3 linked regions of the Homo sapiens genome follow. The protein of the gene in region 1 interacts with the protein of each later gene in a pairwise test. Each region holds a gene or a part of one and is shown on either strand. Other genes may lie near its edges. The genes, in order: ROPN1L, AKAP14 and SPA17.

The links.
Region 2: the proteins of ROPN1L (region 1) and AKAP14 interact in binary tests that used the Homo sapiens proteins (3 or more experiments, as listed by UniProt).
Region 3: the proteins of ROPN1L (region 1) and SPA17 interact in binary tests that used the Homo sapiens proteins (3 or more experiments, as listed by UniProt).

The regions. Positions count from the first base shown.
Region 1 is NC_000005.10:10,442,953-10,453,001, reverse strand, and holds part of ROPN1L (ropporin-1-like protein), read right to left. Parts: intron 4,743-10,049; coding exon 4,619-4,742; intron 3,051-4,618; coding exon 2,889-3,050; intron 1-2,888. UniProt on the Homo sapiens protein: Functions as part of axonemal radial spoke complexes that play an important part in the motility of sperm and cilia. Important for male fertility.
Region 2 is NC_000023.11:119,890,440-119,900,891, forward strand, and holds the start of AKAP14 (A-kinase anchor protein 14), read left to right. Parts: upstream 1-5,453; 5' UTR 5,454-5,548; intron 5,549-5,715; 5' UTR 5,716-5,828; intron 5,829-10,452. UniProt on the Homo sapiens protein: Binds to type II regulatory subunits of protein kinase A and anchors/targets them.
Region 3 is NC_000011.10:124,689,083-124,699,131, reverse strand, and holds the end of SPA17 (sperm surface protein Sp17), read right to left. Parts: intron 7,437-10,049; coding exon 7,350-7,436; intron 4,830-7,349; coding exon 4,686-4,829; 3' UTR 1,614-4,685; downstream 1-1,613. UniProt on the Homo sapiens protein: Sperm surface zona pellucida binding protein. Helps to bind spermatozoa to the zona pellucida with high affinity. Might function in binding zona pellucida and carbohydrates.

The sequences.
Region 1 (10,049 bases):
GTCAATTTATTCTCTATGATAGGAAGAACCCAAAAGAATGTGTGCTGTTTGTGATGTCTCTTCCCCAGGAGTCAGCTTAGACGGCCAAGCTCTATCCTTAACACAATGTCTCCATCTAGTGTCACACACTCTACATGGACAAGAGGCCTTATTTTTCAAATCAGATTCAATTGTGTTTTAAATCTAGTGCTTAATTTTCACAATTAGGAAGGTGAAAACTATAAAGATGGATCCAAAAACATGAATTATTCTACTTTCTCATCATTTTAAAATCAAAATTTTACAACTAAGCTTAGAGGCAGAAACCACCAACATTAATTCAAACATTGCATACAATTTTATATTGTTAACATATCGATTTCAGGGCCGGGTGCAGTGGCTCACACCTGTAATCCCAGCATTTTGGGAGGCCGAGGCGGGCAGATCACCTGAGGTCAGGAGTACAAGATCAGCCAGGCCAACATGGTGAAACGCTGTCTCTACTAAAAATACAAAAAATTAGCCAGGCGTGGAGGTCCATGCCTGTAATCCCAGCTACTTGGGAGGCTGAGGCATGGAAATCACTTGAACCTGGGAGGCGGAGGTGGCAGTGAGCCCAGATCGCACCACTGCACTACAGCCTGGGTGACAGAGCAAGACTCTGTCTCAAAAAAAAAAAAATACACACACACACACACACACACACAGACACACACACACACACACACACACACATATACTTTAGGCTGGGTGCAGTGGCTTACACCTGTAATCTATAATCCCAGAACCTGAGGCTGGTAGATCACCTGAGGTCAGGAGTTCAAGACCAGCCAGGCCAACATGGTGAAACCCCATCTCTACTAAAAGTACAAGAATTAGCTGAGCATGGTGGTGCATGCCTGTAATCCCAGCTACTCGGGAGGCTGAGGCAGGAGAATCACTTGAACCTGGGAGGTTGCAGTGAGTCAAGATCACACCATTGCACTCCAACCTGGGTGACACAGTGAGACTCCATCTCAAAAAACATATAGCTAGATACAGATATAGATAGATAGATTAGATAGATAGACAGATAGATAGATAGATAGATAGATTTCACAGAGTTCCAGATTAACAAAGTGACATAAAAATGTCTCCAATAATTAAAAGTATTTGCCTTTGTCTATCTTGATAATACCCCTGAGACACTCCCCTGGTGCCATCTGCACCTGTCCTTGCTACTGGAGGGTACCATGCCTGCCAACATCCAGGCCTTGGCACAATTAGCCCGGGGCTGACAGGAAGCACCTCCATTGCCTTTGAGCAGTTACACAACAAAACTCTTGCTCATTCTACAGCCACACCACACCCGACTCCCTGAGGGCACGGAGCTTCCCACTGGGGCCATCTGCAGAGCTGGTGAACTGCGCCACACTCAGATGTGACATGGCGAAGGAAGGGAATGAACAACGTGGCCTGTGATGTACAGATGAATACATCTAGTCATATAATTTAGGATGAAAATTTCAGAAAATTACTGACAACACAAATGTCTTTTCATCAAGTCAAAACCAACTAAAATTCCACAGTGTACCTCTTGCGGGACACATAGAAGCATGTGTTTCAGAGGTCAGGAAGCGAGAAGCAGGAACTTCAGAAATGTCATTGCTTCAGGCCACCAGGCAGGGGGACAGGACATGGGAGGAGGCCACAGGTGGTTGGAAGTGACTGTTGGTGCATTAGTGGCCACATTGGGTAGCCTTGCGGGTGTTTACCACCACCCATTTCAAGTAATTTGTTTTAATGAAAATGGAATGAAAGAGCTCTGTGCATGGAGCAAAGCTGAGTGAGGGCTGTGAAGCAAGGACCAGTTATACACACTGGGGCCACAGACTGAAGGGAGGGGGGAAAATCAAATTGTTCATCTATGTAGTAAAGGGAGCTGGTTCTCCTTTCTCTGCCTCCTTTCTTCATAAGCTTCACATGGCAGATGCCTGGTTACTCTTCCTTCACCCAACCACCATGTCTCACAGCAAGACTTTAGCTGAGAAGACTGACTCTGGGTTTGCAAAGGAAGCCCTGCCAACATCATCCCAGCTCCAACCTCTCCCTTCTCGCCCCGACCTCCCAGGCTCGCCTCGTCACCTGGAGGATCATGTCTTATTCCTAAGTTGCTTGGCTTATACTCAAACATCAGCAAAATCTCACTGTATCTATTAGTTATTAATAATAGATTTCTAAGGCCGGCGCGGTGGCTCACGCCTGTAATCCCAACACTTTGGGAGGCCAAGGTGGGCAGATCACCTGAGGTCAGGAGTTCGAGACCAGCCTGACCAACATGGAGAAACCCCGTCTCTACTAAAAATACAAAATTAGCCAGGCATGGTGGCACATGCCTGTAATCCCAGCTATCAGCAACTCGGGAGGCTGAGACAGGGAATCGCTTGAACCTGGGAGGCGGAGGTTGCGGTGAGCCGAGATTGCGCCATTGTACTCCAGCCTGGGCAACAACAGCAAAACTCCATCTCAAAAAAAATGAATAAATAAATAATAATAATAGATTTCTACTAAAGTAGAAAATAATTGTATGCCTCTTTCCACAGATGAGCAAAACAGTTATCAGTTTACAAAATGATTTGTAGTTTTAAAAAGTCATTGATGCATTTTCTTCTAAAACCTAAATATATTTTAATAGTATCCATATCTTTCATCTACTATTAACTTTTAAATTGAGGCATTCATAAATAATTTCTGTAAATTAAAATAACTGTACACCTGAAAATATTAATATAATAGGCCTGGAGCAGGGGGAAATGCTTTTCTAAGACAAAGTTACTAAAGTGTTTCCTTTAGTTACTGAAACCTAAATTATTTTTAAGCTGGGACCATGATGACACAGAATTATTAATATGCTGTTTATAGGTACATACCCCACCAAGCATGCTGCATCCAAGCGCTAAAAAGTTTATCCACTTGATTTTGTTTTCACAAGGATCCAGTTGTAAGAGCGCTTTGAATTTTTCCTTCGGCAGGCACAAGTTCTTCCACTTCTGCTCAAGATCTGTTAATTCCACATACCGCTTGTGGTGACACTGTTTGGAAAACACAGCATGACAATTTATGTATGTTTTAAAACCTGGGAAACAATGAATGCTGTGAATATTCAACACACACCAAGTAACCCGCCCCATGCAGGGGACAGATGAACTCCAAATGCATGACAGGGGGTTCTGTCAGCCCTGGGGAGGGAAGGCAGGGAAGGCAGCGAGCGGCAACCTTTTATTTATTAAATGAAAAAAGGACGGTGAAGCGAATACGGCATCATGTTATGACTTAATGAAACAGGCATACTGATATTGAGTATACGATACTCCACTATCTGTCTGAAATGCTTCACAATAAAAAATAAAGCTCAGTAAAAAACATTTTAAAAATCCAGCCCCTAATCACATTAACAGTTAGATAGGAGAGATCTTAAAACTGAAAATAAATGTATTTCTTCTATTATATATTTATTTGTTAATTTTTGGACAGTCTCATTCTGTTGCCCAGGCTGGAGTGCAGCGGCATGATTTCGGCTCACTGCAACCTCCACCTCCCAGGGTTAAGTAATTCTTCCGCCTCAGCCTCCCAAGTAGCTGGGATTACAGGTGCGCACCACCACGCCCTGTTAAGTTTTGTATTTTTATTGGAGACAAAGTTTCACCTTGTTGGCCAGGCTGGTCTTGAACTCCTGACCTCAAGTGATCTGCCCGCCTCAGCCTCCCAAAGTACTGGGATTAAAGGCATGAGCCACCATGCCCGGCCTTCCTTCTACTATTTTAAACAATCTATCAAAACTGAAAACTTCTGCAATCTGCTAGCAGTATCCTGGATGAAAAGGCTTTGAGCAATTTCAGCATGTCTTTTCGCAAGCTACACCATTCAAGAGTTCTTTGCTTCCCTTAAGGTAGTCCTAGTTTCAGAATTCACTGTATCCTGCGCAGAAGCACAGTACTTCACAGTGTAGAATGGGGATAAGTCAGTTTGAAAATCAAGGTTATGCCACTGGTGTCTCTTTTAGCAAAAGAACCGAGTCATGAGGAAGGCCTAGCCTTGCTCCGTGACCCACTTTCTAGTAACTCACGTCTGTAAAAACAGGATGGCGTGTGGGGCAAAGAAGCGCAAGGCAGGAAGGGGGCCCAGGCTCTCCACAGCACTGGACACCAGAGGCTGCTGCCCACCTTGGGGGCCAAAGGCCAGCCCCGCCTTCCAGACAGAGAAGGCAGAGGCTTACTCAGGCCTGCGCACAGCTTTCACAAACACACACCTGGAGAACGGACTGGAAACCCCCCAGGTTCTGAAATTTTGTATGTTTTGCCCAGCAGAATCTAGTGTCATGTAAATTTTGTATTTAAAAGAAATTATATTTCACTTTTCTAAACTCTACCCCTGGATAGTGACTTGGGGCTGTTGAAGCTAGAAAAAGACCTCCCAGACACAACATATTTCTTCCTTGAATCAACCTTGACGATGCGTGGCAGGGAAAGCAGGATTTCAGGGACCTCAGGAGGTTTGAAATACATTGCTGGGGTGTGCCCCGCTCTGTCATCAATGCACAGTGAACGGTAAGGAAAGCACAGGCCAGCTGCCTGAGGCCAGAGACTACGCCCCCCCATACCTGCTTGTGCAAAACTTTCAGGAGTCCTTGAGTCAGGCCTGTGTCTGTTTTCTGGGTTGCCGTGGGCATTTCCATTCTGTCCTTTACAGGAAGTGGATCTCCTCTCGACAGAGCTGAAAAATAGCTAATAAATAACAGACATCTCTGAAAGCTCATCAATACACAAAAAACAGCTATGCGATCCAATTTCTTAAATAACCCCCCAAAACAACGGTGATTAGGAAGGACAGCTCTGAAGACCAACATCCCGGGCTTATGTCCTGGTTCCTCCACTTGGTTCTCTGACTTAACCTTCTCTGCCTGCCTTAGTTTCTCTGTTGGCAAAGGGGATAATGAGACTCCCTGTTGGAGGGTTGGGGAGCATTGTGTGAGAAGGGCTTGGCGCAGTGGCTGGCACTCGCAGAAGCTCCTTCAACATGTGTGATTCTTCCCCTCCTCCCTGCCACTTCACAATCAGCTGGAGTTCCATGTATTATTCTTTCTTTTTTTTTCCTAAATTTTTTGAGACAGGGTCTCACTCTGTCACCCAGGCTGGAGTGCAGTGGCATAATCATGGCTCACTGTAGCCTCAACCTCCCAAGCTCAAGGGATCCTCCCGCCTCAGCCTCCTGAGTAGCTGGGACTACAGGCACACACCACCACACCTGGCTAATCTTTTTAATTATTTCTTACAGAGATGTGGTCTTGTTCCATTGCCCATGCTGGTCTGGAACTCCTGGCCTCAAGTGATCCTCCCAGCTTGGCCTCCCAAAGTGCTGGGATTATAGGCGTGAGCCACTGTGCCTGGCCGTCTTCCCACTTTTGACAGGTGGGTTTGGTCTTGCTGCTTTTTGAGGTGCTTGACTTTAAGCGTCTCTGCATATTCAACCCTGAGGCAGCCCAGGAACACACAGGTCACCTACTTCCACACTGGGAATGGCAGGTGCTGGCCTGGCTCCCATCCCCCCACCCCCACTTTTCCTGCCTGGTATTGTTCCCCTTAATTGTTCCTTTCTGGGACACTGATATTGCTGCTTATGTTGGGGGCAAGAGTGGGAAACTGTTGGGGCAATAAGTCAAGAGGGAACCCACACCCAGCCTCTGGCTCGTGGTGGGAGGGGTGCCAGGCAAGACCTTCTGAGAAACTCACGCCCCTTGGTATCTTTGCCAGAGGTGGCGATGCTGAAGCCACATCATTTGGGGCCCTAATGACTTTAGCATGATGAAAAGAGACAGCATATCCAGGCAAATGAACATCAAAGCATCCACCAGGGCCACAGATAACAATTTTAAAGCCATGGGTAGTTAGAAACATTGCTACAGATAAATATGGATAAGTCGATATCTGATAGACTAAAATAAACTTCATATCTCATCCTTTCTCTCTCTTTACACCCCTCAAATTTGACTTTGTTTCCTTGCTTTGTAAGACAACTTCAGCTCCATTTTGTGGCTTTGTTAATGATTTGAAGGCAGCAGTGAGTTAGACAAATGTGAACCTAAAGACCTAAAGGGTGTGGGTGAAGAATAGGTGCCTCGTTTTGCCACATTCCTACTAATCAAGGTTTTCACCTATTTCATGGGGGTAACTCCTCATAACTCAGGCAAGGAATCCCGAGCTAGATACAGCCTCTGGAGGCAGAGTTCTCAGTGGGGGATAATGCTCCTCCTCTTTCCCCCACCCGCCACCCTCCTCCCCAGCCAAAAGGCATTTGGCAATTTCTGGAGACGCTTTTTTTTTTTTGAGATAGAGTCTCGTTCTGTGGCCTAGGCTGGAGTGCAGTAGCGCCATCTCAGCTCATTGCAACCTCCACCTCCCAGGTTCAAGCTATTCTCCGGCCTCAGCCTCCTGAGTAGCTGGGATTACACATGTGCATCACCAAGCCCAGCTGATTTTTTATATTTTATTAGAGACGGGGTTTCACCATGTTGCCCCCAGGGTGGTCTCAAACTCCTGAGCTCAGACAATCAACCCGCCTCAGCCTCCCAAAATGCTAGGATTACAGGCGTGAGCCACCGCACCCGGCCTGGAGACATTTTTGATTGTCACAACAGAGGGTGGATGGTACTCCAGGCATCCAGTGGGTGCAGGCCAGGAGGCTGCTAAGTCCCATCATGCACAAGATGCCCCTTCCTCCTGTGCCCTCCCCAACTGTCAGTAGGGCCGAGGCTGGAAATGCCTGCTTTTGAGGTGAGACCAACTAATGTTAGCCTCTGCCAGTTCCTTGAGGCACACGCCAACCAAAGCAGCCTCTATTACTTGACTGATTCTTATGTTCATTGTCCTGTGTGAGGCACAACTGCACAATGGTGTCATAAGGAACAGCCGACTCCCCTCACAGTGGAGTCCACAGGCTTAGGGGGAGGCTGGCTCATCTTTGATATTTGCCCACCTGAAAAGCACCTTTGAAAAGAACCCTAACCTGAGGAAAGAGGAATGCCTACTTGCTTCATCTTTTTTGTTTGTTTGTTTTTTCTTTTTTAGACAGGCTCTTGCTCTGTCACCCAGGCTGGAGTAGAGTGTTGTGAACATGGCTCACTGAAGCCTCCAACTCCTGGGCTCAAGTGATCCTTCTGCCTCAGCATCCTGAATAGCTGGGATTACAGACATGCATCACCATGGCCGGCTAATTTTATTTTTAGTACAGACAAGGTCTTGCCACGTTGTGCAGGCTGGTCTCGAGCTCCTGAGCTCAAGTAACCTGTCCGCCTCGTCCTCCCAAAATGTAGGGATTACAGGTGTGAGCCACCGTGCTCAGCCTACTTGCTTGTTCTATAGCAGTTATGTCCGTGGGTATCCTGGTTTCCTGTTTTGGTTTTGATGGTTTTTCTTTTTCCTGTCTCCACCCCCTTCTTCCTGTGCTGCTTCCTCTTCCTGGAATCCTCTCCACCCCACCCAAGCCCCAATCTCTCTGCCTACAAAATCTCTCAAGGACCAAGCCACTACTTTGCTTAACTTTCGTGACCCTTCATTTTTGCACTTACCAAGTCCCGCCTTACTCAAGTTACTTTTGAATAGCTCTCCCTAACAGATTCTGTCCTGTGACAGCTGAAACATATTTGAACCTACAATTACATATATACTGCCGAATGAATAATACCTGGGTTTTCTCCTAAACTCACAAATTGTTCTTGGTCAGGCGCGGTGGCTCAAGCCTATAATCCCACCACTTTGGGAGGCCAGGAGGGCAGATTACTTGAGGTCAGGAGTTCCAGACCAGCGTGGCCAACATGGTGAAACCCCCGTCTCTACTAAAAATACAAAAATTAGCTGGGCGTGGTGGCACGCACCTGTAATCCCAGCTACTTGGGAAGCTAAGGCAGAATTGCTTGAACCAGGAGGCAGAGGTTGCCGTGAGCCTAGATAGCACCAGTGCACTCCAGCCTGGGCCACAGAAAAAGACTCTATCTAAAAAATAAATAAATAAATGGCTCTTGAGAGAAATTAGTAGCATGGTACATTCGGAAAGTTCCTGATTAAGTCTCTTATTTATTTATTTATTTTTATGATGGAGTCTTGCTCTATCATCCAGGCTGGAGTGCAGTGGCACGATCTTGGCTCACTGCAACCTCTGCTTCCCGGTTTCAAACAATTCTCCTGCCTCAGCCTCCCATGTAACTGGGACTACAGATGCGTGCCACCACACCAAGCTAATTTTTGTATTTTTAGTAGAGATGGGGTTTCACCATGTTGGTCAGGTTGGTCTCGAACTCCTGACCTCAGGTGATTCATCAGCCTTGGCCTCCCAAACTCTGGGATTACAGGTGTGAGCCACCATGCCCAGCCTGATTAAGCCTCTTAAAGTGAAGTTTAGGCCAGGTGCGGTGGCTTACACTGGTAATCCCAGCACTTTGGGAGGCCCAAGTGGATAGATCACCTGAGGTCAGGAGTTCGAGACTAGCCTGGCCAACATGGTGAAACCCCATCTCTACTAAAAATACAAAAATTAGCCGGGTGTGGTGGCAAGTGCCTGTAATCCCAGTTACTTGGGAGGCTGAGGCAGGAGAATCGCTTGAACCCGGGAGGCAGAGGTTGCCGTGAGCCGAGATCTCGCCATTGCACTCCAGCCTGGGCAACAAGAGTGAAACTCCGTCTCAAAAATAAATAAATAAATAAACAAAGTGAAGCTTAACATAACTATCTCTAAGGTATTACTAAATATAGTTTAATGTTCCAAGAAGATGTTGCTAAATCTTGGAATTTTTTGTACAGCACAAACTCTTATAAATCCTTTTATTTAAGCTTGAATAATGGTTAAAACCAGAGGCTATATTTCTTTAGCAAGAACTTTGAAAGAGTCTTTCAGAAACCATTGATAAAAGCATTTCTCAGAAGGCAAGCACTGGATGGACAAGTAGCTCAGTTGGTGGGTAAAATAACAGCCCCAAAGGTATCCAGGTCCATGTTCCAGGAACCTGGGAATGTTACTTTACATGGTAACAGGGATTTTGTGGACTGATAAGGATCTCGGGTGGGAAAACTGCCCTGGACTATCTGGATGGCCACTGAATGCAATCACCAGTGTCCTTGGAAGAAGGAGGCAGAGGGAGATTTGAAGATGCTGGCCTTGAAAATGGAGGAAGGGGACATGAGCCAAGGCGTCCAAGAAATGCAGCTCTAGAAGCCAGAAAAGGCAAGGAAACGAGCTGGGTTTTCCTGAGAACCACTGGAAAGAGCAAAGCCCTGTCAACACCTTGATTTTAGCCTAGTGAAACTAATTTGGACTTCTGGCCTCCAGAACTGCAAGAATGTATGTCTGTGTTTTTTTTTTTTTTGAGACGGAGTCTCGCTCTGTCGCCCGGGCCGGACTGCGGACTGCAGTGGCGCAATCTCGGCTCACTGCAAGCTCCGCTTCCCGGGTTCACGCCATTCTCCTGCCTCAGCCTCCCGAGTAGCTGGGACTACAGGCGCCCGCCACCGCGCCCGGCTAATTTTTTGTATTTTTAGTAGAGACGGGGTTTCACCTTGTTAGCCAGGATGGTCTCGATCTCCTGACCTCATGATCCACCCGCCTCGGCCTCCCAAAGTGCTGGGATTACAGGCGTGAGCCACCGCGCCCGGCCCAAATGTATGTCTGTGTTTTAAGCTGTCAAGTTTTGTGGTGATTTGTTACAGCAGCCAAACGAAACTAATTCACTTTGGTTATAGAGTTTAAAGCCAGCAAAATTTGGCTGTTTTTTTTCTTTTTAAATTAGTTTTCTTATTAAAAAAAATACAGATGGGGTCTTGCTGTGTTACCCAGGCTGGTCTCAAACTCTTGGGCTCAAGTGATCCTCCCAGCTTGGCCTCCCAAAGTGCTGGGATTACAGGCATGAACCACCAAGCCCAGCCAAAATTTGAAATGTTGATGACTAAAATATTTAAATTAAATTTACACCTGTGCTGACTCTTGTCATCATAAAAGTGAGTTTTTGTTTTACATCTGTTTATTGAAAAGGGGCAAAGAGCTCT
Region 2 (10,452 bases), on another chromosome or scaffold:
CAGTCCTCACAGCCCTCGCTCGCTCTCCGCGCCTCCTCTGCCTGGGCTCCCACTTCGGCGGCACTTGAGGAGGCCTTCAGCCCACCACTGCACTGTGGGAGCCCCTTTCTGGGCTGGCCAAGGCAGGAGCCGGCTCCAGGGAGGTGTGGAGGGAGAGGCGCCAGCGGGAACCGGGGCTGCGCGCAGCGCTTGCGGGCCAGCTGGAGTTCCGGGTGGGCGTGGGCTTGGCGGGCCCCGCACTCGGAGCAGCCGGCCGGCCCTGCCGGCCCCGGGCAATGAGGGGTTTAGCACCCGGGCCAGCGGCTGCGGAGAGTGTACTGGGTCCCCCAGCAATGCCGGCCCACCGGCGCTGCGCTGGATTTCTCACTTGGCCTTAGCTGCCTTCCCGCGGGGCAGGGCTCACGACCTGCAACTCGCCATGCCTGAGCCTCCCACCCTCTCCGTGGGCTCCTGTGCGGCCCGAGCCTCTCCGACGAGCGCCGCCCCCTGCTCCACGGCGCTCAGTCCGATCAACCACCCAAGGGCTGAGGAGTGCGGGCGCACGCGCAGGACTGGCAGGCAGCTCCACCTGCAGCCCTGGTGTGGGATCCACTGGGTGAAGCCAGCTGGGCTCCTGTGTCTGGTGGGGAGGTGGAGAACCTTTATGTCTAGCTCAGGGATTGTAAATACACCAATCGGCGCTCTGTATCTAGCTCAAGGTTTGTAAACACACCAATCAGCACCCTGTGTCTAGCTCAGGGTTTGTGAATGCACCAATCGACACTCTGTATCTAGCTACTCTGGTGGGGACTTGGAGAACCTTTGTGTGGACACTCTGTATCTAGCTAATCTGGTGGGGACTTGGAGAACCTTTATGTCTAGCTCAGGGATTGTAAACGCACCAATCAGCGCCCTATCAAAACAGACCACTCGGCCCTACCAATTAGCAGGATGTGGGTGGGGCCAGATAAGAGAATAAAAGCAGGCTGCGGGAGCTAGCAGCAGCAGCAACCTGCTGAGGTTCTCTTCCACAATGTGGAGGTGTTGTTCTTTTGGTCTTTGCAATAAATCCTGCTACCGGCCACTCTTTGGATCCACACTGCCTTTATGAGCTGTAACACTCACTGTGAAGGTCTGTAGCTTCACTCTTGAAGCTTAGCAGGACCACGAGTCCACCGGGAGGAATGAACAACTCCAGACTAGCCGCCTTAAAAGCTGTAACGCTAACTGCGAAGGTCTGCAGCTTCACTCCTGAGCCAGCGAGACCACGAACCCACCAGATGGAAGAAACTCCGAACACATCCGAACATCGGAAGGAACAAACTCCAGACGTGCCACCTTAAAAGCTGTAACACTCACCAAGAGGGTCCGCGGCTTCATTCTTGAAGTCAGACCAAGAACCCACTAATTCCAGGCCCAGTCAGTCTTACCATCATCATGATACGTTAACTAATGTTTATTGAGCATGTACAATGTATCTGTCCTTGTTTTGAGGTCTCTGTTTGAATCACCTAAATTCATCTTTTTACCAACCCTATAAAAAGCCTATTAAGATCCCCATTGTGCACATGAGACTCAGAGAGGTAAAACTATGGAATGAGACCACTGCTTCTCCTGTTGTCCTTCTTAGCTTCTCCCCCACCTCCCCTTTGCCCTAGTTTATGAGACAGGAGAAAAGGGAGAAAGCAAAAAGTTGGAAAGAAACAGAAGTAAGATAAATAGCTAGACGATCCTGGCGCCAGCACCTGGGTGGTGGTTAAAATAATAACACCAGTAGTTTTGGTCAGGGGTTATCTGTGAATTCCAGACATTGTATGAGAAAGCACTGTAAAACCTTTTGTTCTGTTACCTGATGTATGTAGCCCCCAGTCACGTTCCTCACGCTTACTTGATCTATTATGACTCTTTCACGTAGACTCCTTAGAGTTGTAAGGCCTTAAAAGGGCTAGGAATTTCTTTTTCGGGGAGCTCGGCTCTTAAGACGTGAGTCTGCCGACGCTCCCAGACAAATAAAAAACCTCTTCCTTCTTTAATCCGGTGTCTGAGGAGTTTTGTCTGCGACTCATCCTACTACAAAACAACCTGCCTGAAGTCACAGTTACAACGCCAGTATGTGGCAGAGCTCGGATTTGAAACCCTGTACTGTATCTGCATTCAGAGTCTGTGTTGTTTCTTTTTTTTCCTTTGTGACAGAGTTTCGCTCTTGTTGCCTGGGCTGGAGTACAATAGCACAATCTTGGCTCACTGCAACCTCTGCTTCCCAGGTTCAAGCGATTCTCCTGCCTCAGCCTCCCAAGTAGCTGCGATTACAGGCCAGCACCACCATGCCTGGCTAATTTTTGTATTTTTAGAAGAAATGGGTTTTCACCACGTTGGCCAGGTTGGCCTCGAACTCCTGACCTCAGGTGATCCACCCGCCTCAGCCTCCCAAAGTGCTGGGATTACAGGCGTGAGCCACTGTGCCCGGCCCAGAGTCTGTGTTTCTTCTACTAAACCACACTGTCTCCAAAACTCCTCCCTTCCCACCCTCCATTCCCCTGCCTCACCACTCCACCTCCACAGCATGATCTCTGGGTGTGGGACCTCAAAACATGTGATGTCTTCCAGGCAGTGAGCTCAGCATTTCTTCCTGGATAAAGACACTTAACATTGCAGTTTTCTTCCTTTGTTGGGTTTGAAATCCACTGTCTTTTTTTTTTCTTTGAGCCGGAGTTTCGCTCTTTTCGCCCAGGCTGGAGTGCAGTGGCGAGATCTCGGTTCACTGCAACCTCCACATCTCCGGTTCAGGTGATTCTCCTGCCTCTGCCTCCCAAGTAGCTGGGATTACAGGCGCCTGCCACCATGCCCAGCTACTTTTTAGTAGAGACGGGGTTTCACTGTGTTGGCCAGGCTGGACCTGAACCCCTGACCTCAGGTGATCCACCCACCTCAGCCTCCCAAAGTGCTGGGATTACAGGCGTGAGCTACCATGCCTGGCCAATACCACTACTATAAATAATACTATTAATAGAAATGATATCTACGCTGGGCATGGTGGGTCATGCCTGTAATCCCAGCACTTTGAGAGGTGGAGGTGGGAGCCTAGGAGTTCAAGACCAGCCCAGGCAACAAATAGAGACCTTGTCTCAACAAAACAAACAAACAAACAACAAACTGGGTGTAGTGGCACATGCCCGTGGGCCCAGCTACCCAGGAGGTTGAGTTGGGAGGATCACTTGAGCCTGGGAGGTTGAGGCTGCAGTGAGCCTTGATCACACCATTGCACTCCAGGCTGGGAAACATTTTGAGATCCTGTCTCAAAAAAAAAAAAAAAGAAAGAAAGAAAAAGAAAGGCTGGGCACAGTGGCTCACACCTGTAATCCCAGCAGTTTGGGAGGCCAAGGTGGGCGGATCACCTGAGGTCAGGAGTTTGAGACCAAAAATTATTTGGGCGTGGTGGCAGGTGCCTGTAATCCCAGCTACTCAGGAGGCTGAGGCAGGAGAATCGCTTGAACCTGGGAGGCGGAGGTTGCGGTGAGCCGAGATAGTGCCACTGCACTCCAGCCTGGGCAACAAGAGCAAAACTCTGTCTCAAAAAAAAAAAAAAAAAAAAAAAAAAAAAAAAAAAAGAGAGAGAGAGAGAGAGAGAAAGAAAGGCTATCTAATCATTATAGAGAGAGATTATGATGTACCAGGCATTGTTCTTGGTCTTCACATGAATTGCCTGGTTTGATCCCCATAAAATCCCTATTCTGTAGGCATTGTTATTAACCCCATTTTATAGACAAGGGAACTGAGAAAGAAAAATGTTAAATTGTTCCTGAGTGTAAGCTGATAAGCACTATATCTCTTTCATCTTTGATTCATAAAAGACATCTTTGAAAGCTGTAAAAGGAAAATAAAAACTTGGGACCCCAATTCACTCTGCCAAAAGGAAAAAAAATTAAACTGAAAGCTGAGTCATGCAAGAAGCTGCCTTTCCTTTTGTTCCTAAGCAGACAGCTACAAATAACAGGTTAAATATCTCCACCTGTAGCTACTCTATGTTTACCTTATCTTATGTAAAGTGCTGATTTACTGAGCAGGAGACGGATACATAATTGATTCTTCCTCTACCTGCTCTTTTTCTCTTGCAACATGTGGATTCAATCATGTGACCATACCTTCCCTCTCTTCCCTCAAGCTCGCATTTCCCCTTTATTATTATTATTTATTATTATTATTATTGTTATTATTTGAGACGGAGTCTAGCTCTTGTTGCCCAGGTTGGAGTGCAGTGGTGCAATCTTGGCTCACTGCAACCTCTACTTCCCGGGTTCAAGCGATTCTCCTGCCTCAGCCTCCCAAGTAGCTGGGATTACAGGTGCCCCCCACCATGCCCAGCTAATTTTTGTATTTTTGGTAGAGACAGGGTTTCACCATATTGGCCAGGCTGGTCTCCAACTCCTGATCTCAGGTGATCTGCCTGCCTTGGTCTCCCAAAGTGCTGGGATTACAAGCGTGAGCCACTGCACCTGCCCTTGCATTTCTCCTTTAAATACTGAAGCCTAGGCCGGGCGTGATGGCTCAGGCCTGTAATCCCAGCACCATCAGAGGCCGAGGTGCATGGATCGCCTAAGGTCAAGAGTTCGAGACCAGCCTGACCAACATGGTGAAATCCCGTCTCTATTAAAAATACAAACACTAGCTGGGTGTGGTGGCAGGAGCCTGTAATCCCAGCTACTTGGGAGGCTGAGGCAGCAGAATCGCTTGAACCCGGGAGGCAGAGGTGGCAGTGAGCCAAGATCGTGCCATTGCACTCCAGCCTGGGCAACAAGAGTGAAACTCCATCTCAAACAAACAAACTAAAACCTGAAGCCTGGCCAGGTGGGGTGGCTCATGGCTGTAATCCCAGCACTTTGGGAGGCTGGGGCAGGAGGATAGCTTGAGCTCAGGAGTTCGAGACCAGCCTGGGCAACAGAGCGAGACCTTGTCTCTACAAATAATTTAAAAATTGGCCAGGTGTGGTGGTGGCACACCTATAGTCCCAGCTACCTGGGAGGCTGAGGTGGGAGAATCACTTGAGCCCAGGCAGTGGAGGCTGGGGTGAGCCATGACTGTGCCACTGCATTTCAGCCTGGGTGACAGTGAGACCCTGTCTTTAAATAAATAAATAAATACTGAAGCCCTCAAAGTCATCTTTGGAGAAAGGCACAGACCTGTCTCCCAGACACATCCTTAACCTTGGCAAAATAAACTGGTAAATTGAGACCTGTTTCAGATACTTTTTGGTTTGCAAAGCAATGAAGTACACATGGGAAGTCCTAACCTCAGAATTTGGAAATGAAAAAGTAAAAGCTCAGCCAAAGAAGTCAGCTTTGGGTGTGAGTTTGGGACAGTACTTTCTGTACCTCAGTCTGTTCAACTGCAATATGCAAATACTAATACCTCATAATGCTATTGTGAGGAGTAAATGACTTCAGACACTGAAGGCTTAACACAGTGACTGGCATATCATAGGGATGCCCAATACATACCAGCTGTGAGGCTTATCACCACTGTTCTTCCTGGCATGGCCCTGTAAGCTCATCTTCGGCTGAAGAGAAGCTAGGTATAGCTACTACAGTTTGGTCCTATTATTGCGGTCAGACAGTTGCTGTGATTGGCTCTCCCCTCCTTCCCTCACCCCCTCCCATCTTACCCTCTGTTATTAACATAAGCAGTCAGAAACATGTAGGCTATGCTTCCCATTGGTTGAAATTGTTGTTTCCTTGGCAGCACTTGCAAACATTCCATCTGGCAATCTGAGAGAAGCTACTGAGAGAATCCTGAGACATCCCCAGCCACCTACCACTGCTCCTGTTCCAAGCAAAGAAGATCTGCTCACTCCGGTACTGGGGATTCTCCGGGGTGGGGGAGTCCACAGAAAGGACTTGCAGTGGTTCTCCCTATTCATCACCCAGACCCCAAACGTTACCATTCCCCCCATCTCTTCCTACCCACCCTGCCTATCTGGCCTCTGAGAAGGGGAGGGGAGGAGAGGGGAGGGGAGGGGAGGGGAGGACAAGGGAGAGGGAGGGGGAGGGGAGGGGAGCGGAGGGGAGGGGAGAGGAGGGGAGGGAAGGGAAGAAAAATAACTAGGAGATGCCAGTGGGAGGGAGGCTTAAGAATGGTGTGGGCCCACAGACGTGTGAGGGTAAAAATTGAGCTTCTTCCTGGGCACTGCTCCCCATCTTCCCTCTCCTGTTGGAGCACAGGCTCCCCAGGGAAAGTCTTAAGGAGGTCCTTCCATGCATAAAGCACACACCCCATGTGCTTCGTGTTGGAGGTCACAGATTTGACTTCTCATCGATTTATCAATAGGAAATTTGCTGAAAGCAAAGTTACTGAATGTCCAAGTTACCAAATGGGCAATTTTCTTTTCTTTTCTTTTTTTCTTTTTTTTTTTTTTTGAGACAGAGTCTCGCTCTGTCGCCTAGGCTGGAGTGCAGCAGCGCGATCAAGGCTCACTGCAACCTCCGCCTCTGGTTTCAAGTGATTCTCCTGCCTCAGCCTCCCGAGTAGCTGGGACGACAGGCATGCACCACCATGCCTGGCTAATTTTTGTATTTTTAGTAGAGACGGGATTTTGCCATGTTGGCCAGGCTGGTTTCGAACTCCTGACCTCAGGTAATCCTCCCACATTGGCCTTCCAAAGTGCTGGGATTACAGGTGTGAGCCACCGCGCCCGGCCCCAAATGGACAATTTTCTTTCTTTCTTTTCTTCTTTCCTTCTTTCTCTCTTTCTTTCTTTTCTTTTTTGAGGTGGAGTTGCACTCTGTTGCCCAGGCTGGAGTGAAGTGGTGAGATCTTGGCTCACTGCAAACTCTGCCTCCCGGATTCATGCCATTCTCCTGCCTCAGACCCCCAAGTAGCTGGGACTACAGGCACCCGCCACCACGGCTGGCTAATTTTTTGTATTTTTAGTAGAGACGGGGTTTCACTGTGTTAGCCAGGATGGTCTCGATCTCCTGACCTCGTGATCCGCCCGCCTTGGCCTCCCAAAGTGCTGGGATTATAGGTGTGAGCCACTGCGCCCGGCCCAAATGGACAATTTTCTAAAGGATCAAGTTGATATATGGCTACCTCACCAAAGTCTACTGAAATTACCAATTTACCCAAAAACCTTTGTACAGTTGTCTTTAACTACAGAGTTTATAGCAGGTTGCTCTGGCCAAATTGGCATGGCCTAAGTAAGGGCTAGGGAGAGCCAGTTCTCTAGTGTTAAGGACCTTTAGGCTCCTCACTGACCACCCTTTAGCCTCTGGCTGCTCTGGAGTGGGCAACCTGGAAATGCTCTGTGTGCTCTGGCAGATGATCCTGTCTACCTCCAGCTGCAGCAACAAGGAACTGGGGCAGAGGCAAACTGAGCTTAAAAATGCCAACATCAGTCTGGGCAACATACTGAGACCTATAAAATAAATAGCCTGGTGTAGGCAGGACACGGTGGCTCATGCCTGTAATCCCAGCATTTTGGGAGGCCGAGGTGGGCAGATCACCCGAGGTCAGGGGTTGAAGACCAGCCTGGCCAACATGGTAAAACCCTGTCTCTATTAAAAATACAAAAATTAGCTGGGCATATTTTTGTATTTACAATACTTTTGTATTTTGTATTTACACACCTGTAATCCCAGCTACTCAGGAGGCTGAGGCAGGAGAATTGCTTGAACCCAGGAGGCGGACGTTGCAGTGAGCCGAGATTGCGCCACCGCACTCCAGCCTGGGTGACAGAGTGAGACTCTGTATCAAAAGAAAAAAATAATAGCCAGCTGTGGTGGTATAGGCCTTTAGGCCCAACTACTCAGGAGGCTGAGGTGGGAGGATCACTTGAGCCCAGGAAGTTGAGGCTGCAGCTAGCTGTGATTGCGCCACTGTACTCCAGCCCAGGTAACAGAGCAAGACTCTATCTCAAGAGGAAAAAAAGGAAAACAAAAAGCTAAAATGAACAATAGCCAACATTATTTCAGGGATGTTCAAAGGCTGTCCCAGTGGTTCTTGAACTGATGGCCGTTGGAGCCAGGTTGCCTTTTGCAGTATCTACTACCCCCTGGGATCAATGATGATGTCAAGAAAGGAAACAGAGAGTTGCCCTTTGTCCGGGCGTGGTGGCTCACACCTGTAATCCCAGCACTTTGGAGATTACACCAAGGCAGGTGTATCACCTGAGGTCAGGAGTTCAAGACCAGCCTGGCCAACATGGTGAAACCCCATCTCTACTAAAAATAACAAAAACTAGCCGGGCATGGTGGCGGACACCTGTAATCCCAGCTACTTGGGAGGCTGAGGCAGGAGAATCACTTGAACCCAGGAGGCAGAGGTTGCAGTGAGCCGAGATTTCGCCATTGCACTCCGGCCTGGGCAATAAGAGTGAAAACTCCGTCTTGAAAAAAAAAAAAAAGAGTTGCCTTTTGTGAAAGAGGCTCCCAGAGAGAGAGTGGGTCACTGGACTCTAGATGAAAATGTGAGAATAAGGCCAGGCGCGATGGCTCACACCTGTAATCCCAGCACTTTGGGAGACTGAGGTGGGTGGATCAGGAGGTCAGGAGTTCAAGACCAGCCTGGCCAAGATGGTGAAACCCCGTCTCTACTAAAAATACAAAAATTAGCTGGGCGTGGTGGCAGGTGCCTGTAATCCCAGCTACTCGGGAGGCTGAGGCAGCAGAATTGCTTGAACCCAGGAGGCGGAGGTTGCAGTGAGCGGAGATCGTGCCACTGCCCTCCAGCCTGGGTGACAGAACAAGACTCTGTCTCAAAAAAAAAAAAAAAAAAAGGAAGAAAGAAAATGTGAGAATAGGGCCCTACTGCTCTTTCTCAATCTTGGAGGGAGAAGAGCAGCACAGTTGAGAGCATGGGCTGTGAAGCCAGACACTGTGGGTGTACAGCTCAGTTTCCTCATTTTCACATGGCAGCAACAGGCCCTCTGTCTGTGACTCAGGGCTCCTGTAGGAAACTGTTGGCATATTAAAATGAGGATAGCTGTAGAAGGGTTAAGTAAGGGAATATTTACAAAGGTGTGGCCAGATTGCAGGGCAACAGAGGAAGGTGCAGCTCCCCGGGGCTAGTAACAGTGGGCCTAAAACGTTGAGGGGAGAGAATGCTTACCCTTACCACACTGGGAAGCTGGGAGAGCGCCACCCTGAAAGACGCTGGGGACTTCATGCAGCCAGCCATCAGCCAACTCGCAGGGAGAAAACCACCAGGGACATACATTTTGACTTCCTGATCTCCTTATTGTGTGGAACCCCCTAGAAGCCAGAGGGCACCATTTATGGGTGCAGTCAGGTTAGTTTTCCAGGGCAGGAAGCAGGAGGAGATGCAAGGACAGTGGATTTGGAAAGGCAAATGGAAGGTGCCCAGCGCACTCTTTCATAGGGCTGTGATGACAGTTAAATGAAACATAGCACATTAAACACCCCCAAATTGGGAGCTGTTATTTATAGAAAAATAGCTCCATTTGGAGAGAGATACCCACTTTCATGTAGCCCTTCCACTCAATGGAAGGATTGCTTGCAACATACTTATTTTTTATTTTTTGAGACAGCCTTGCTCTGTCACCAGGCTGGAGTGCAGCGACACAATCTCGGCTCACTGCAACCTCTGCCTCCCGGGTTCAAGCAATTCTCCTGCCTCAGCCTCACGAGTAGCTGGGATTACAGGTGCTGGCCACCATGCCAGTCCAACTTTTTTTTTTTTTGAGATGGAGTCTCACTCTCATTGCCCAGGCTGGAGTGCAATGGCGTGATCTGGGCTCACCACAACCTCCGCCTCCCAGATTCAAGCGATTCTCCTGCCTCAGCCTCCCGAGTAGCTGGGATTACAGGCACGTGCCACCACACCTGGCTAATTTTTGTATTTTTAGTAGAGACGGGGTTTTGCCTTGTTGGCCAGGCTGGTCTTGAACTCCTGACCTCAGGTGATCCACCCGCCTCGGCCTCCCAAAGAGCTGGGATTACAGGCATGAGCCACCAAACCTGGCCCAGGCCAATTTTTGTATTTTTAGTAGAGATGGGGTTTCTCCATGTTGGCCAGGCTAGTCTCAAACTCCTCACCTCAGGTGATCTAACCCCTTGGCCTCCCAAATTGCTGGGATTACAGGCGTGTGCCACCGTGCCTGGCCATGTTTTTTATTTTCTCTGAGACAGGGTCTCGCTCTGTCACCCAGACTGGAGTACAGTGGTGAGATCACGGCTCCCTGCAGCCTCGACCTCCCAGGCTCAAGTGATCCTCCTACATCAGCCTTGTGAGTAGAAAGCTGGGATTACAGGCACACATCACCATACCTGGCTAATTTTTTAAACTTTTGTAGAGATGGGGCCTTGCTATGTTGTCCAGGCTGATCTCAATCCCCTGCACTTAAGCGATCCTCCCACTTTGGCCTCCCGAAGTGCTGGGATTACAGGCCTGAGCCACTGCACCCGGCTGCCTGTAAGGAATTTAAAGCTGTGCTGGAAGTAAGCAATTTTTCATAAGCAAAGA
Region 3 (10,049 bases), on another chromosome or scaffold:
ATGCTCAGATAGCTGATAAAATGTTTCTGGAAGAGATTAGTATTTGAATTGGTAGACTAAGTAAAGAAGGTCTGCCCTCACCAGTGTGGGCAGATTGACATTGAGGACTTGGGTAGAACAAAAAGGCAGAGGAAGGGCAAATTATCTTGGGAAGGGTGCACCACACCTTTTGGTACATGGAGTTGACTATAGTCAAATTCATAGGAAGTCCATAAAGTTTAAAAGAGAACTTTATTGGCAAAAGTACCAGTACCAACTAAAAGGCAGAGGAAGGGCAAATTCTCTTTTGGAGCTGGGACATCCATTTTTCTCTGTCCTTGGACACCAGAGGTGCTGGTTCTTGGGCCTTGGGACTTCAGGACTCACACCAGCAGCCCCCCTGGTTCTCAGGGCTTTTGCCTTGGACTGAGAGCTACACCATTGGCTTCCATGGTTCTCAGGCCTTCAGACTCAGACTGAATCACACCACTGGCTTCTCTGGTTCTCTGCTTGCACACAGCATATTGTGGGCTCTCTCAACCTCCATAAGTGCATGAGCCAATTCCCATAATAAATTCCTAGTCATATATCTATATATATTCTATTGGCTCTGTTTCTCTGGAGACCCTGAGTAACACAAGGTGGAAGCTGGGAGAAGAAGGGATAGTGAATGCTCGGCAGTTATGATATCTATATATTGAAATATTGGTTCCAATTTTTCACTCTTAACAGAATTGGAAACAGAGAGATAAAGGGAGGCAAATCTTGAAAGAAATTGCGAGTGCACCACACCTTTTGGCACGTGGAGTTGACTATAGTCAAATTCATAGGAAGTCCACAAAGTTTAAAAAAGAACTTTATTGACAAAAGTACCGGTACCAGCTAAAATAGACATTCTACAAGATATAAACAGATTATTGGCCTCTAATTTTCTACAGGCAGAAAGCAGGTTGAAGAACCCATTTATCCACCAAAAAGGGCATATTCTCTAATGTCCTTTGCAAGTGACTAAGGAAGATGAGGGAAAAAGAATGATTCCCTAGAGTGTAGAACAAAGAGCTGTGGAGGATAGACTGGAAAGTCATTTTTAAGGAGCAGAAACAGTGCCTAATCATGAAACACAATTCCCTCCAATGGAGGAACCTGACAACCATTGTCCAATGAGTTTTCCTAATTGTTATGGACCAGTGGCTGTGATCTGCTTCCATTTCTCCCCTTTGTGAATAAGAGTATTTTTTTGTGGTTATTATTGTCTCTATTCCATCATTTGTTGTATGTTTGGTATGTGATAAAAAGATGCTTGCTCTTTTAATTCATAGGTCTCTATATCAAGAAGGGCTATATCTGGACCTGATGTAGATCATGAGATCCTGGATTTCAAAGATGTGATGGAACTTTTAGGGGTTTTGGGATAGGAGTGGGTCAATTTTTGCATGTGGTAAAGACATAATTATAATCAAGAAAGCAGATCGTGGTAGATTAAATTACTGGTCGCAATTCTTCACTACCCTGTAGTAGTATTATGCACACATGAAGCCTTTGCTATTGGTGAACAGTGTATTTCCTCATCCTCCTCACTTTGGGCTTCATTAGATGACTTTCTTTTGTATATGGGATGTCAGTGGAAGTGATATGAGCAAAAGCTTGAAATATTCTTGCATGCTGGGTTTTCCTGCTTGTCTTCTGTGACCAGCATGAGAAGAGCTTGTCCTGGATAACGTCTTTCAGCAGGGGCTCAGAAAAGGACACGTGAAGCAGAGGCACTGTGCTGCAGCTGACCCTTGGGCCCACAGCCTGAAGCAGACCTTCCTGTCAGCCCACAAACCCACAGCTTAGAGCTGACCTGAACCTAACCTTGAGATTGTAGTCCAGCCTAGCTTAGCTACATTACCACTGACCTACAGACCCAGGAGAAAATATAATTGTCTTAAACCACTAACTTTGGAATGGGTTGTGCAGTAGTAGTGAGATAATCACTGGCCAATATAGGTTATTGCAATAATTCACAAGGCTATCATGGGAACTAGGACCAAGGCGGTAACAATGGAAGTGGTTAGAAGTAGGCAGATTCTGAGTATTATTTTATAGGTACAGCCCACAGGTTTTGCTGATAGATTGTATATGGGGTGTGAAAGAAAGTGACGCATTAAAGATGAATCCAAGGTTTTTGGCCTGAGCAAATGGAAGAATGGAGCAGCCATTTTTGAATGGAAAAACTTGGGTGTGGGGGAAGTTTCAGATTTGGGGGCAATATCAGGATTCATTTTTTATATGTTACTTTTGAGATGCCTATAGACATCCAAATGGGGATGTTATGTAGGCAGTTGAATATAGAAGTTCGCAGGCAGAGGAGAGAAAGGTCTGGGAGTGATCATTAAGAAGATTGGATTTTAAAGCTATGAAACTGCAGGAAATCAAGTGAGTGTAGAAATGGGGTCGAAAGACTGAGCCTAAGGGCACTTAGCATTTAGTGGTTGGGGAGTTGAAGAGTTACCAGTGAAGGGAATTGAGAAGGAACAGCCAGAGAGATAAGAGGAAAACCAGATAAGTTCTAATAAAGTGTCATTCATATGTGTTGTTCTCATAATATCACATCCATTGCTCACCTTTTCCTTTTCCTCCTTCACTACCAATATCACTACCATGAGATCTGTGTGTGTGTGTGTGTGTGTATGGAATGCATAGTGCTAGTCACTTTATGTGTATAACAGGAGAATTACTGAAAAAGCTAACTCATCTTTTTTTTTTTTCCTGCTATATACTCACTAGGGAAAAAATCCCTTTTTTCCTCTTCTGATCTCTCCAGGTCAGGGAATCTAAGTCTTTGCATAAATTCTGGGTCCCCCCTTGACAATCCGCTAAGCAGGATGGCTCTGTCTGAGAGGGGAAGGTGTTAGAAGCTGGTGCTTTCAGTGGAATGGGAGGGACGAACAGCTGGAATCCTGGAGGAGAACTGATTTCTTTTCCTCTGTAAGCCTGGAGGAGAGGGGTTAAGGAGGAGAGGAAGGGGGATATTAGAGACTTGTGTTTAGCTAGCATGAAACTCTCTACAGTGGCAGCAAGATTTTGGAAGGAGAAAGGCTGCCTGTATGAGTGGACATTAGAGAATGAAAGCCACAACCTTGAAAGGGTTGGTGTGAATCAACTGTGTTTGAGTGGCGATCACTTGGGGGAACCTCTGTTGCAGAGCCTGATAAAGGCTCAGTGCCAGGGAAGGGCAGTGAGGCACCTGAAATAAAACTGCTTTGCAGAAAGAGCATGTCTAAGCCTAGGACAAGGATCAAAGTGTTTGTAGGAGAGTATTTGTTGTGACAACATAGACCTGGTTTTAGAATCTCCTCAGGACTGAGCCATCCTGGCTTGTTTTTAAGCTTTGGGGGAACACTGGCTTTGTGACTATAAACCAAGAGAGATGTAATCCTGGAACTAAATCATGGGCCATCCACTATGGTGCAGGCAGGAATTGGAACCAGCCAGAGAATCACCTCAGTCTGCTGGACTATGCTACAACATTATGGTAGAAGGCAACAGCATTAACTAAATGGTAAGACTCCACTTTCTACCTTTTGTATTGGGAAGAGAACTGCACCCTTTGGTCTAAGACATGAACCCTCAGTTTCTTGGACAATCAAGGGTGGAGAGGCCTCAAAAAGGAGAGACGGAACTTTCTAAAACTAAGGCACTAGGGATTTGAATGAATCATTGAAAACATAAAAGAGATAAAGCCTCTGAGTTTGTTAAACAGGCATTACCATTGTATATTTAAAAACTTGGGAAGTTTTAACTGAAGAAGGCAGCATGATATGATAGCTTTTGCTTTTTACAATATGATGTTATTAGTCTTGTTCTGTGTGGTTCTGGAGAGCAAAACAATAAAGCATTGTAAGTTGTATGAGTGTAAGAACAAGTATTCACTACTAATTCCCAGCACATGAATAGTACTCAATACATTTTCAATAAATGATTGAATACATGTATGATAAATGAAAACCAGTGGGTTAAACTTACAAGGAGGCAGAGGCTTTTTTTTGTTTTGTTTTGTTTTTGAGACAGAGTCTTGCTCTGTCGCCCAGGCTGGAGTGCAGTGGTGCGATCTCGGCTTACTGCAGCCTCCACTTCCCAGGTTCAAGCGATTCTCCTGCCTCAGCCTCCCGAGTAGCTGGGATTACAGGTGTGCGCACCACGCCTGGCCAATTTTTGTACTTTTAGTAGACATGGGGTTTCACCATGTTGGCCAGGCTGAAGGAGGCAGATTTTTGTCCCAGCTTATCTTTCTAAAAATTCCAAAATTAAATAGACTATCCTTAAAAAGCAGTGAAATTCTTTACCACTAGGAGTGAAACAGGAGCTAAAGAACATTTTTGGGGGATGTGATAGAGAGGATTTATTCATTTGATAATAGTTAGAACACATAACCTCTGAGATCTCTGTAATCTCAGATACTTTAGTTCTATAATTCTAAATCCAAGGGTCTCTATAGATAGGCTTGAGACAAGTGTAAACAAACTCATGATCTCAGAGAAATCTTCAAGTGGCATGTTTCAATGGTATGCTTATTAAACAAATGCTCATGACAGATTTTCACAACAGTAACGAATGTTATTTCACAACATCAAATCTTCCTTCCTCAGGAAGAAATGACATTAATAAGAAGGTTGATGGATTTGGATTATTTTTCATGTTTCCTGGAGGTAAAACCAGTGTCCTCACTTGTTTTCCTCTTTTTCCTCATTTTGAAGACTATTTGTTTTCATTTTCTTTGCCTCCTCTCTGGCTATGTGTCCCCGGAAGGCAGCTTGGATTTTGACAGCAGCAACCTCTTCTTTTTCCTTATCTTCCTCAGAAGAGTCCTTCATCGAAAGGAGAAAAAGTAAGAGACTCTTTAAATATGGCGTAGTTTTGATGCCACAAAAATAAATGGATGAAATTTAATCATTTTAGGGATGCAACTATCTGAGAGCTGTTGCTTCCTGAGGGAATTTCATATATTGTCACATTGTATATGTACCAAATGGCAAATGCCAAAATAGCAGGCATTTTGTTTTGTCACTCTTTTAATATGTCTCTGCAACAAAAGATCATTGCCAACTTTCTTTCCCCTAAAATAGTGCCTATTTAAGTTTCCTGAGCAACAACATTTTTTGGGGGGTTGGGGGGACAAGAAAGAATCCTTGAGGCATGGTAAAAATGTTAAGAAGAAAGAACTGTAAATGTTATGTTTCAAAATAATCACAATTACATATAATGAATTAGAATAACTTCTCAATTTCTCAATGATTAGTTAATCATCGTCATACATTTAAAGTGAGGTGCCAAAGAGAAATCCATTTAGTCCAATAATGTCAGTTTTAACAGGGTTGGTTGAACTTTGGCACATACCCTCTTTTAAAAAAATTGGGTATAAATTTTTAGCTATAAATTTACAGACAGTAAAATGCATGAATCTTCAGCGTACAATTGAATATACAGCTTTTAATATATCTTTTAAAATTATAGAAATGACATGTATACACTTTAAAAACTCAAATGTCACTGGCAGTGATAGTTTTCTCCACCTATCCAAATCCTGCTCTTGGGAGATACCCATTATTATGAGTTGAGTATCTACATCCTTCCAAAATTTCTCTATATGCAAATATATTCATATGGGTATATATATATATATATGTCTTTTTATTTTAAAAATGAGATCATCCTAATCACAGAGTTCTGCAGCTACTTTTTCCATGTAACGATATATCTTGGTTCTCTTTTTCTGTATTATTAGTCAGTGTATAACTCTCCCCATTCTTTTTTTATGACATCATTATATTATACTGATGTACCTTGATTTAATATTTACTCAATCTCATATTAATGGACCTTTGGGTTGCTCAAGCCTCCTATCCCCCTATTATAAATAATGAGACAAATCTAGCTCTTAAACTTTTAAATGCAAACAGAATGGTATAAAATTCTTCGAGATGACATCCTAATATAGCAAACAAATACACTCAAGTTGGAAATCAATGAGATCCCTACTCAAACTCATGAAAACCTGTGTAAAAGCACCTATGAAAGATGTAAGGAAATAAAACTCCCTTCTTCCTTGACTTCCTGTTACATCTTAATGTTAATCTTCCTGTTATATCCTAATGTAATGTTATTTCAGTACAACCCAATGGCAATTGTGGAACAACCTGTAAATCTTATAGGGAAAAGCAATGCATCACTAGGTAGGAAGTAGGGTATTCCTTGAGGGGATATCCATTCTGGCTGCCAGTTCTTGGGCAACTACCTGGGACCTGAGACATAAAAAGGAACTCAGAAGTTTGAACTTCGACATTTTAGAGAGTGAGTTCTTCTTTCTTATGAGGCCTAGTCCACAAGAGTCTGGAGTATGAAGAATATAGACAATGATGTACTGGTAAGTGTTTTAACAACTGGCTCTCCAGAAGAAACAAAGCCCTGATTTGCAGTGTTTGCCATGGTCTTAATATTCTCATTGTGGCTGACTTCAAGTTATTAAAGTGACATTACTGAACAATGGGCCTTTGAGGGTGGACTTCGCTATGTCTTTTTTTTTCTTTTTTTGAGAAGGAGTCTTGTACTGTCGCCCAGGCTGGAGTGCAGTGGCGTGATCTTGGCTCACTGCAACCTCCGCCTCCCGGGTTCACACCATTCTCTTGCCTCAGCCTCCCGAGTAGCTGGAACTACAGGCGCCCGCCACCATGCCCGGCTAATTTTTTGTATTTTTAGTAGAGATGGGGTTTCACCGTGTTAGCCAGGATGGTCTCAATCTCCTGACCTCGTGATCTGCCTGCCTTGGCCTCCCAAAGTGCTGGGATTACAGACGTGAGCCACCACGCCCGGCCTCCGCTATGTCTTGACTGCTTGGATGTAGTACATCAGGCACGAAGGCATTTTTGTAGAGCGTTATGCATGGAAGATGAATAAGCCACATTGTTGTAAAGCCATTATTTTGGCTGTATGTAATTCCCTGTGATTTTCCTTTTGTTATCTCTGAAATTTGCCATTGTGTAGTGGTGACAGCACCAATTAGTGAAAAATTCCCAAAGTGGAAGATGAATCTGAAGGATCATGACTGGGTCTGTGAGTTCTGTCTGCCCTTCCCCATAGGGAGATTTTTCCATCCATTAACAATCTTGAAAAATAAGATTTCATTTTTAAAGGAAAAATGAATTTTTGATCAAGAGAGGCATGGCTGAAAATTATCTACCAGTTAGTTTATCACTGATGTTAATTATCTGGAAAGTAAAGTCATAATTTTGACAATAAAGATAACAGACATTCATATTTGGAGTTCAGTTTTAAATTGGGCAATATCATTCTTTGTAGGAATCCAATAGTACATGAAAAATATTACATACTAAGATGGTGACTGATGTCTCTTCCTCCTTCCCAGATATCTGAGACTCTTCTTGTTTAGGATCACTTTTCTCAGGTGGTTCTTGCTCCTGGACAGATAGGAGAGAGCCACAATTAGCAATGTTTCCAAAATGGCAAAGTCTTGTATCAAACTGCTTAGAAGTAATGAAACATTACTTTAAATTACTGAGAAATAGGGGGAATTAAATACTACGTATTTATCTTTTAATAAGGAAAATACATTGAAACAAGAAGAAATAATAAAAGCTCTTAAGGAAATACGTGTAAACAAATATTAAAGACCAAATAATTGGCAAAAATGTTTGATCTGTTGCTTTTGGAATGTGTGTACCACTGTTTTATGTTAAAAATAAACCACTGTCCTATACTAAAAGTTGATAAGATGATGTAATGAATCCTGAACAAAGTATAAAAAAGAGGATCCAATAGTTTCTAAAATAGGAATAAAATAAATGGCATTGTGTTCCATAATGTGACATCAAATTGACTTTTTAGTGACGTTTATGGATTAAAACTAGTCAGAGAAGTAAGTTTTGCTGTGGAGTTTTGCTTTATGATTTAAATATAAAAGGAGAAACCACCTCTGCCTATTTTGACATGGCTATTTAAGTCTTCCTTCATTGCTAATTCACACCTATGGAAAGAGCTTCTTTAACCCATAAAACCAAAATTTAAGAATATATAAGTTAATCAAATAAAGCCTTTAGAATTAAAAAAAGAAACACCCCAAAATTGCTATGTGATGCAAGGATTTAAAATCTTTCAACATTATTCCTTTGACTTCGATAAACATGAATACAAATAAAACATGAGCACAGAGAATCTAGTAAAATGGAAATACACAGAACACACCCATACCTGCAGGCACAAATGGATGGAACTTCACTTTCAAACTTGTGTAATAAGTGACAGCTCCTTCTTCAAGAAATTCCCCAAATCTACTGGAGAACTTGAACTTTGTTAATTCTTTTCAATTCTAATATCTGCTGTGCTTTGTGGCTAATAGTACTACCTCAGTTGTCTAGAGCAGTGTTCTCAAATTTTAATGTACCTACGAATTATTCTGGTGATCTCTTAAAAATGTAACTTCTGATTTGTAGACCTGGAATGGGGCCCAATACTTTGAATTTCTTCTTTTTCTTTTATATTTGTACAAATTTATGGAGTACATGTACAATTTTGTTACATGTGTGGATTGGTGATCAAGTCAGGGCTTTTAGGGTGTCCATCACCCAAATACTGCACATTTTAGCCTTTAACCAATTTCTCATTATTCTCCTTTCTCCCACCTCTCCTCACTCTTCTGAGTCTCCATTATCTATCATTCCACGTCTATGTCCATTTAAACACATTTTTTCAGCACCCACTTATGAATGAAAACAAGCACTACATGTCTTTCTGTGCCTGGCTTGTTTCACTTAAGATAATGGCCTCCTGTTTCATCCATGTTGCTGGAAAAGACACGACTTCATTCTGTATTATGGCTGAATTGTATTCCATTGTGTATACATCCCACATTTTCCTTATTCATTCATCCATTGGACAGATACTTAGGTTGATTCAATATCTTTGCTATTGTGAATGGTGCTGCAAACAACATAAAAATGAATGTATCTTTTGATGTATTGATTTATTTTCCCTTGGGTAGATACCTAGTAGAGAGATTGCTGGACTGAATGGTCATTCTATTTTTAGTTATTTGCGAAATCTCCATACTGCTTTCCTTAGAGGCTATACTAATTTACATTCCTGACAACAGTGTATAAGAGTTCTCCTTTCTCTGAATCCTTGCCAGTATCTGTTATTATTTTGTCTTTTTCATAGTAGCCATTCTGAGTGGGGTAAAATAATATCTTACTGTAGTTTTGATTTGTACTTCTCTGATGATTAGTGATATTGAGCATTTTTTAATATACCTGTTGGACATCTGTATGTCTTCTTCTAAAAAATCTCTATTCATGTCCTTTTCCAAGTTCTTTTTTCTTTTTCTTTTTCTTTTTTTTTTTGAGACAGGGTCTCACTCTGTTGCCCAGGCTGGAGTGCACTACAGCCTTGACCTGTGGGCTCAAGTGATCCTCTCACCTTAGCCTCCCAAGTAGCTGGGGACTACAGGTGCACACCACCACGTCTGGCTAATTTTTTGAAGAGATGGGTTTCACCATGTTGCGCATGCTAATGTCAAGCTCCTGGGCTCAAGCAATCTTCCTGCCTTGCCTCCCAAAGTGCTGGGATTACAGGCATGAACCACCACGCCCAGCCCTTTGCCCACTTTTTAATCAGATTACTTATTTTTTGTTGTTGTTGAATTGTTGGACTCCCTTGTGTATTTTGGATATTAGTCCCTTGTTGGATGAATAGTTTGCAAGTAATTTCTCCCATTCAACAGCTTATCTCTTCACTCTGTTGATTATTTCTTTTACTGTGCAAAGCTTTTTAGCTTAATTAAGTCCCATTTGTCTATTTTTGTTTTTGTTGCCTGTGCTTTTGTGATCTTAGTCATACATTCTTTGCCTAGACCAATATCCAGTAAAGTTTCTCCTAGGTTTTCTTCTAGTATTTTTACAGTTTTAGGTCTTATGTTTAAGTCTTTAATCCATGATGGGTTGATTTTTGTGTATGATGGGAGATAGGGGTCCAATTTCATTTTTCTACATACGGCTCTCCAATTTTGCTAGCACTAT